2 separate regions of the Homo sapiens genome follow, and region 2 is reported to be linked to region 1. Evidence: microRNA targets listed by miRTarBase, many of them from high-throughput screens and not tested one by one. Region 1 holds a microRNA gene; the other region holds the end of a gene's coding sequence.

Region 1 (4,394 bases):
CTGTTCTTGAACTCCTGGGCTCAAGCGATCCTGCCACCTCAGCCTCCCAAAGTGCTGGGATTACAGATGTGAGCCATCACGCCTGGCTGTGTCCAAATATATTTCAACAAACTGCATCTCAAACTGGGTATACTAATATTTGGTGCCACTAGTAAGTATATATAAATATATAAGAGAACAAGGATTACCTAGCTATCATAATTACAGTAAATTTGTTTTGTTAATAGGAACTCATTTTAATTGTGCATTCATTTTTGCTGCTTTTGGCCCTTAGTTGTTTGAAAGCCAATAGTTTTCTAATTATACTATGAATCCTACACACCATGAATACCTACTGAATATGAAATGTCTGTAAGACCCTGTTCTAGGAGCTACAAAGAAAACTGAAATAAGTTAGCCCAAGGATTTTTTGTGAAGGCAAAGAAACATTTTAATTCCAAATAATTATTATTAGGTAGAAGAGAGCTACAAAGTGTTTCTGAGGGTCCCAAGGAGGCAGAAGATGGCAGTGTCTGAGCTGGATAGGCATACTTTCAACCGGCAAGGGTGTGGCAAGAGTAAAATCAAGGCTGGTAAAAGAACACAGCACGTTTCAAGCCTAAGCAGCTTAAGTGCAAAGTGGCTCCGGGTGGAAATGATGAGAGAGCAAGAGCACAAAGAGGACCCTCTAAAACAGAGCCAGTGACCATGTGAGCTGAGGGGGAGGGCTTCTCACAGGGCAAACGGTACAGAAAGACGCGAAGACACAAAGCATCATGACCCATCCAGGGAGCTGCATGTGATCCCACTTGGCTAAAGTGAAGGGTACATGTGGGAAAGAAGCAGATGATGCTAAATAAACAGGCAGAGGCCTGACTGTGAAGGACCTTGTGTGCCAAAGTAAAGTACGTGAACATTATTCCAAAGGCAACAGGGAACTGAGGCATTTTTAAGAAAAGAAATGACAAGCAGACTAGCTTTAAGAAAAAATTACTCTGGCACTCCAATGGTTTCCCATCTCACACAGGATAAAATCCAAAGTCCTTCTTATGCTTAATACCCTATACATGCTGATCACTCGCTATCTCTGAAATTATTTCTCCTTTTCCCTCACTCACTGCTCTGGCTACAGTGGCCTTCTTGCTGCCCCCTCCCATGTGCCCTTTCCTCAGTGCCTTTGCACTTGCTATCCCCACTACCTGGAACTCTTCCCTGGTTAGCTGCATAGCTCACTCCCTCACTCGCTTCAGGTCTGCCTTCATGTTCAAACCTTTTCTTATCAGAGTTGTTTTACTGTTACCGGAAATAAAAGAGCAAAAATCGACTATAATCAGCCCCACTATGTTTTCCTCCAGTGTATTTATAGTATTTGTATACTGCCTGTCTCTCCTTACTAGAATGTAAGCTCTATGATGGATCTCTTCAATAACCGTGTGACATTGAGATTGTTACTACTGACACGTCCAGACAGCAAATCTAATGGACGAGCTAAGTAATCTATCCAAGGATATACTTCTAGTGAACAGTGGAACCAGGGAGACTGACTCTGGAGCCTGCACTCTAACTATTTTACATACTGACTCCCCAGAAGTGTCACAGGTCTCTGACTCTGATTCTAAAGCATTTCCTGTGAACAGGCTCCATGCTGACAAGCACTAAGCCAGCAAAAATTCTGAATTCACAGTATGTTCTTCTAAAAAGATGGTGATTCTTACAATTTGTATTAGCCAAGTTTTAAAAGCCAGGGAATATTTTTTAAATAATCAATTAAAATGTACAAAGTATCTGGACTTTTACCTATCCAAAAATTAGCTGTTTTTTTTTTAGACCCACAGATATTCAAACAAGATGAAAGATTTTATGAACTAAAAGGAACACAGCATATGACACCAAAAACTACCCAAGACCCTTTTTCCGTTACCATATTCAATTTCAGGAATAAAACTCAACATCTTTAAAATAATCATCAAATTTTCTGACATGCCACTCCCGGAGGAAGAACAATGTGGTATCTACAGGAAAACATCCAGCAAATACAGTATCTCATGCACAGTAAAAGAATGAAAGGTAGGCTGCAGTAACATTTGTCTTTATTCTTTCCCCACTCCTGAAATTATTAAATTTCCTCTCTGCCTGGGCATTCTTTCATCCCATCTCCCATTACTATCAGTATCCTCTCCTTAAAATGCAGTTGTCAATCAACAGTTGTCCCCATCAACCACTTCATACCAGAACTCATCCACTCTTAATTTCAACTATTACCTCTATTAGTATAACTCCCAAATCCTAATAGAGGTAGTAGCTGAAATTAAAAGTGGCATAATTTCTCCCTCTTTCCTTCTCCAATCTTTGATTTCTCTCACTTCAGGACCCTTTTATTTCCTTATGTTTTTAAGGAAAATTAACTTTTTCAAAATTGGTCCCTTCTCCATTTATTTCATAATCTGTATTATCTGGCCATTCTCCTAGGTTTGCAACTTCAATATAATTTTTCTCCACTTAATCAATAGGACCGCCAACTATTCATTGTGTTTCTTATCTTACTTTCGACTCCATAGCTATCATCATATTTTGAGTTTTCTTCCTCTCCTTTGTGAATTACTACAGTTCTCCAGAGGACCTGCCTACCTCCAGACGGCTCACTCACTCCCACTCATTCTGTATACACTGCTAGTGAAGCCTTTCTGACACAGCACACCCACCACATTACTCTCTAATTCATGGACCTTAAATAGTGTTCCAACACAACAAATCTAAACTTCTCAAACCAGCACTCAGGGTCTTCTGCTCCTTTAGAATGTCACTAGTAAATGCTCCTCTTTTTTTTTTTTTTTAGAGGAGTCTCACTCTGTCACCAAGCTGGAGTGCAGTGGCGCGATCTCGGCTCACTGCAACCTCCGCCTCCCAGGTTCAAGCAATTCTCCTGCCTCAGCCTCCCGAGTAGCTGGGACTACAGGCGCGTGCCACCACACCCAGCTAATTTTTTTTGTATTTTTAGTAGAGATAGGGTTTCACTATGTTTGCCAGAATGGTCTCAATCTCTTGACTTCATGATCCGCCCGCCTCGGCCTCCCAAAGTGCTGGGATTATAGGCATGAGCCACCGTGCCTGGCCATAAATGTTTATCTTAAACATTCTAAAAAGATAAAAACCTAGAAACCCAACATTCTGATCTTCTTCATCTAAATCTGTACAATACACACTATGGGTCTGTAGAGGTCATAGTACACTATCTTCCACCTAACTTCAACAGATCACATCAGGCAATGGAACTATGGACAGTCCCCAACTTATGGTTTGGGTTACGAGTTTCAACTTTATGATGGTGAGAAGGCGATACACATTCAGTAGAAACAGTACTCCAAGCACCCATACAACTATTCTGCTTTTTCACTTTCAGTTTTCAATAAATTATGTGAGACATTCAACACATTATAAAATAGGCATTCTATTAGATGGTTTTGCCCAACTGTAGGCTAATTTAAGTGTTCTGAGCATGTGTAAGGTAGGCTATGATGTTCAGTAAGTTAGGTATATTAAATGCATTTTCAACTTGTGATATTTTCTATTTACAATGAGTTTATCAGGAGGTAAAACCACCATAAGCCAAGGAACATATATATTACCTAATGTATCATCTTCTGAACATCTCAAGCTACTATGACAAGGATTCATTTTCAGAAGTTTAATCCTTCTAATCCACAAAATTAAAGTGTGTACAGTTATCAGAAAAATAACACTTCATATCTTTAGTAAGAGTACAAATTTGTTGAATATTTTTAAGGGCGAATTTCCCAATATCTACTGAAAGTTTATGTGCAAATATCCTTTAGCCCAGCAATATCACTTCCAGGAAATAACCTGTAGATATTCTCACAGAAGCAAGCAAAAATACATGCAGAAACACTACTATTATAGTTAAAAAAAAAAAAAAAAAAAAAAAAAGGAGGGGAGTGGATTTCCTTCATAGACTTCTATTATACATCTCTACAATGGAAAATTATATAATTAAAAATAAAGACACAGTTACAAACGAATTGATATGGAAAGTTTAAGAATGCCATGAAGGGGAAAAAAAGCTATTTATAGAACAGAATATAATTATTCTATTTGTGTAAAGAAAATGTATATGAAGGCTGGGCACGGTGGCTCACGCCTGTAATCCCAGAACTTTGGGAAGCTGAGGCAGGCGGATCACGAGTTCAAGAGATCAAGACCATCCTGGCCAACACAGTGAAACCCCGTCTCTACTAAAAATACAAAAATTAGCCGGGCATGGTGGCAGGCGCCTATAATCCCAGCTACTCGGGAGACTGAGGCAGGAGAATCCCTTGAACTCGGGAGGTTGCAGTAAGCCGAGATTGCACCACTGCACTCCAGCCTGGGCGACAGAGCGAGACTCTCTCAAAAAAAAG
Region 2 (4,383 bases), not on the chromosome of region 1:
ACAAAAATTGCCCAGGCATGGTGATGCGCACCCATAATCCAGCTACTTGGGAGGCTGAAGCAGGAGAATTGCCTGAACCTAGGAGGCAGAGGTTGCAGTAAGCCAAGATTGCGCCACTGCACTCCAGCCTGGGCAACAGAGTGAGACTCTGCTTCAAAAAAAAAAAAAAAAAACATAAAAATACTTTAAGGGTCTTCCTCTGAAAGACTTTTTCCTTCTGTTTCCTTTTTTTTTCCTCTTTCACATTTTCTGTATTGAGCCAATATGACTACTGTAATGGAGGGGAACCCTTTATTTGTAGTTAGCTGGTGATAGGCTTTATTTTACAAGTTGGCCCCATTACCAGATGGCACATCTGACTATCATCTCATAGAGGCCTCAGCTGAAGGGCACAGAGAAGGTAGGGTGGGGTTCCCAGTGGAGCAGGTCCTGGGGTGGCTGCTCCTCTTTCATTCTTCTCTGTCTCTGTAGCTGAGGATCCTGTGGAGGAGACCATCGCAGCCCGCAGTCCACCGGGATCAGAGCTTCACTTACCAGTATAAGATACAGGACAAAAGCGTGTCCTTTTTTGCCAAAGGAATGTCTCCTGCTGTTCTGTGACCTGATTTCGGAGCAGCTGAAGCTACATAGGACTGTTTTTGGACGTGGAAGATAGAGCAACATAGCAAGAATGGGTCTTTCTCCTCTGTAGTAATATTTCAGGCTGGACCGGCGACTCCACTGTGACCAGAGGGTTGAGTGCTGCAGTGATGGCATGCCTTGGCTGCCCTGGGCCCTGTTCAGAAAACACAAGGGACCACAATCCTGCCTTTGCTGAGAGAGAGGCTGGATGCTAGACCCAAGTGAAAGGGGTCCTTTGGAGCCTTTGTTTAAATATGCCTTAGCCCCAGCTGCCCATTTTTGGTTGACAAGCCTTTCAGAGCCAGAGTGGGTATAGATGTGCCAGCCAGGAGATGGCACCGGATGGCAGGTGTGCAAGGTGACAACTAGGATAATCATGGCTGGAATAAAGTAAGTTTCCACACTGGAGCTTCCTGTGGGTTGTCTTGTTCAATTTCCATCCTGGAAAGGTACTTTCCCTTTCCCTATGAGTTCAGCGAGGAAACAGACCTAGAGAGGTTTGGAAGCACACAGGCTGCACAGCAGGCTGTAAGTAACTGTGCCTCACTCCACAGTCCACACTTGCTGACTGACAGTCATGGAACCCAGAGGCCAGCTCCCCACCCAAAGGTGGGGACCTTTGGCTTCTCCAGTTTCTGTGGTGCCTTGCCTTTATGCCAACAAATCCTAGCCATCAAGGGCCTGGCACCAGGGCCTTGGCCACATGAGGCCCTGTGTAGGCGCAGGTGTGTATGGTCTTGGTGAGAGGGGTAAGGGATGTTCTTGCTGCCAGGCGGATCAGGCCTTGGCGAGTTGCTGGTGCCTCCCTCACCTGTGAAGACTGCAGGAGGTGGGCTCTTGCCCCGCATCCTGTAGATGACAACTAGTCCCACTCAGCCCCTCAGTTGAGGTCACCTCAGAGTAGACACCAGGTGTATTCTCTTAAAATGGCTGCTTTTTTGGTATATAAATTATATTACAATGAATTTTATCTTAAAGAAAATGAAAAAATAATACTATTTTGCTGTATACTAAGGAACTTACATAGCTGTTATTTTCTTTTCTTTTCTTTTCTTTTTTTGAGACAGTCTTGCTCTGTCACCCAGGCTGGAGTGCAGTGGCCCGATCTCGGCTCACTGCAAGCTCCGCCTCCCGGGTTCATGCCATTCTCCTGCCTCAGCCTCCTAAGTAGCTGGGACTACAGGCACCTGCCACCATGCCCGGCTAATTTTTTGTATTTTTAGTAGAGACGGGGTTTCACCGTGCTAGCCAGGATGGTCTTGATCTCCTGACCTCATGATCCGCCTGCCTTGGCCTCCCAAAGTGCTAGGATTACAGGCATGTGAGCCACCATGCCTGGCCTTTTTTTTTTTTTTTTTTTTTTTTTTTTTGAGATGGAGTCTTGCTTTGTCACCCAGGCTGGAGTGCAGTGGTGGCATGATCTTGGCTCACCACAACCTCCGCCTCCCGGGTTCAAGCTATTCTCCTGCCTCACCCTCCCAAGTAGCTGGGATTACAGGCACGTGCCACTGTGCCCAGCTAATTTTTGTATTTTTAGTAGAGATGGGGTTTTGCCATATTGGCTAGGCTCGTCTTGAACTCCTGACCTCAGGTGATCTGCCTGCCTTGGCCTCCCAAAGTGCTGGGATTACAGGCATGAGTCACCATGCCCAGCCTCTTTTCTTTGTTTTGAGACATGGTCTCTCTCTGTTGCTCAGGCTGGACTGCAGTGGTGTGGTTATAGCTCACTGCAGCCTCGACTCTCTGGGCTCAAGGGCTCTTCCCACTTCAGTCTCCCAAGTAGCTGGGATTACAGGTGCGTGTCACCACGCCCAGCTCATATCTGTTGTTTAATTTTAACTTTTTGGATTTTTAGTCTTTAGGAAAAATTTATCACACTTCTCTTCAAATCATACCATTGTGTATGTTATCCGTCTGAAACAGTAAGCTGCTTTTATTCTCAAAATACTGTAGACCTGATAGAATATTTGAAAGTTATGAGTGCAATTAAGAGAAAGTAGTTATTAAAGAATCTAATGATTCTTTGACTAAGACTTCATTATTTATGCAAACTTCGTTTGAGCTACGATTTTGAATGGGCAAGGCACCATTTTTTACATGACATAAATGTTGCTATCATGTTTCTTCACTTAGTTTATAGATGTTTTCACTATTTTTTTTGAGACAGGTTCTCTCTGTTGCCTAGGCTGGAGTGCAGTGTGGCACTTCTTAGTTCACGTGAATTCCAAGTGATCCTCCCCTACCTCAGCATTCTGAGTAGCTGGTACTACAGGTGCCCACCACCATGCCTGGCTGTTTTTAATTTTTTTGTAGAAACGGGGTGTCACTTTGCTGCCCAGGGTAGTCTTGAACTCCTGGGCTCAAGAGATCCTCCCGTCTCAGCCTCCCCTTAAATATTTTATGTTTAATAGCTATTGAGGGCGGGGCACAGTGGCTCACGCCTGTAATCCCAGTACTTTGGGAAGCCAAGGCGGGTGGATCACCTGAGGTCAGGAGTTCAAGAGCAGCCTGGCCAATATGGTGAAACCCTATCTCTACTAAAAATACAAAAATTAGCTGGGCGTGGTGGTGGGCACCTGTAATCCCAGCTACTTGGGAGGCTGAGGCAGGAGAATCACTTGAACCCAGGAGGCGGAGGTTGCAGTGAGCCGAGAATGCACCATTGTGCTCTAGCCTGGGCAACAAGAGCAAAACTCAGTCTCAAAAAAAAAAGCTATTCAGCATTTTATGCTATCATTATATTCTAGTTTGTTTAGTTATCCTCTGGGCATGTAGATTCTGGTTTTTACAGTTATCAATTATGCTGTTATAAATTTTATATACTCTACCTATTGCGGGTGGGGATAAGTACTTGTTTGTTTAGAACCTGACAAACCAGGTCACTGGCAGAGCTCATAGAACTTACGTTCTGGAAGAGAAGACAGGCAATCAACAGAATCGACAAAGGACATATTTAACTTAGACCACAATAAGTGCTATAAATAAACCAGCACAGGGGCCTGTGAGAAGTGAGGGGTGATGACATTTTAGTCCATACCCTCTAATGGAATTATTGAATTACAGCAGAAACTGGCCCTGGCACATTATCAGGTTGTTCTTCAGAATGATGGAGCCAGTTGACAATGATGCAGAGATTTTGCTCTGTCAACTTTGGGTTTAACTTATTTTTAATTAATTTAATAGTGGTGGTTGTGTGAGAATGGACTAATACAGGGGTAGAAAAACAGGATCATAAGGTGTGATATGGTCCATAAAAATGATTCTAGTGTGAAATGGACATTTCTTTAATCACTAGCATATAATTTTCTCTGTATTTTTCCGTGTGTACAGAATCTGTTCCTTATCCTTGCTTACTTATCAATTAAAACCTGGTGTTGGTCGGGCATGGTGGCTCATGCCTGTAATCCCAGCACTTTGGGAGGCTGAGGCAGGCAGATCACTTGAGTCCAGGATTTTATTTTTATTTATTTATTTATTTTGAGACAGAGTCTTGCCCTGTTGCCCAGGCTGGAGTGCAGTGGCGCAATCTTGGCTCACTGCAACCTCCACCTCCCGGGTTCAAGCGATTCTTCTACTTCAGCCTCCCGAGTAGCTGGGACTACAGGTGCCTGCCACCACGCCCAGCTAAGTTTTTGTATTTTTAGTAGAGACGGGGTTTCACCATGTTAGCCAGGATGGTCTTGATCTGCTGACCTCGTGATTCGCCTGCCTCGGCCTCCCAAAGTGCTGGGATTACAGGTGTGAGCCACCGTGCCCAGCCAG

What was found. Region 1 holds the annotated microRNA hsa-miR-5690 (UCAGCUACUACCUCUAUUAGG, at 2,265-2,285, opposite strand). A microRNA usually pairs through its seed, bases 2 to 8, with sites in the 3' UTR of a target mRNA and lowers its output. Matches are read on the target gene's strand: a 7mer-m8 pairs with bases 2 to 8, a 7mer-A1 pairs with bases 2 to 7 and ends in A, and an 8mer does both.
Region 2: the mRNA of ELP6 is a reported target of hsa-miR-5690. The part of its 3' UTR that is shown has no 7-base or 8-base seed match.

Annotation. Positions count from the first base shown.
Region 1 is chr6:35,662,496-35,666,889 of GRCh38, forward strand. It overlaps MIR5690 (microRNA 5690), which reads right to left and starts at 2,294; the gene lies at 2,222-2,294. All of the region lies in intron 1 of FKBP5 (FKBP prolyl isomerase 5), which reads right to left. RefSeq lists enhancers at 201-702, 703-1,202.
Region 2 is chr3:47,492,286-47,496,668 of GRCh38, reverse strand. ELP6 (elongator acetyltransferase complex subunit 6) reads left to right here. Exons shown (of 7, transcript NM_001031703.3): 7 at 472-1,029. The coding sequence ends at 600. Among named protein-coding and RNA genes, the nearest start is that of SCAP, 19 kb to the right of the region's middle.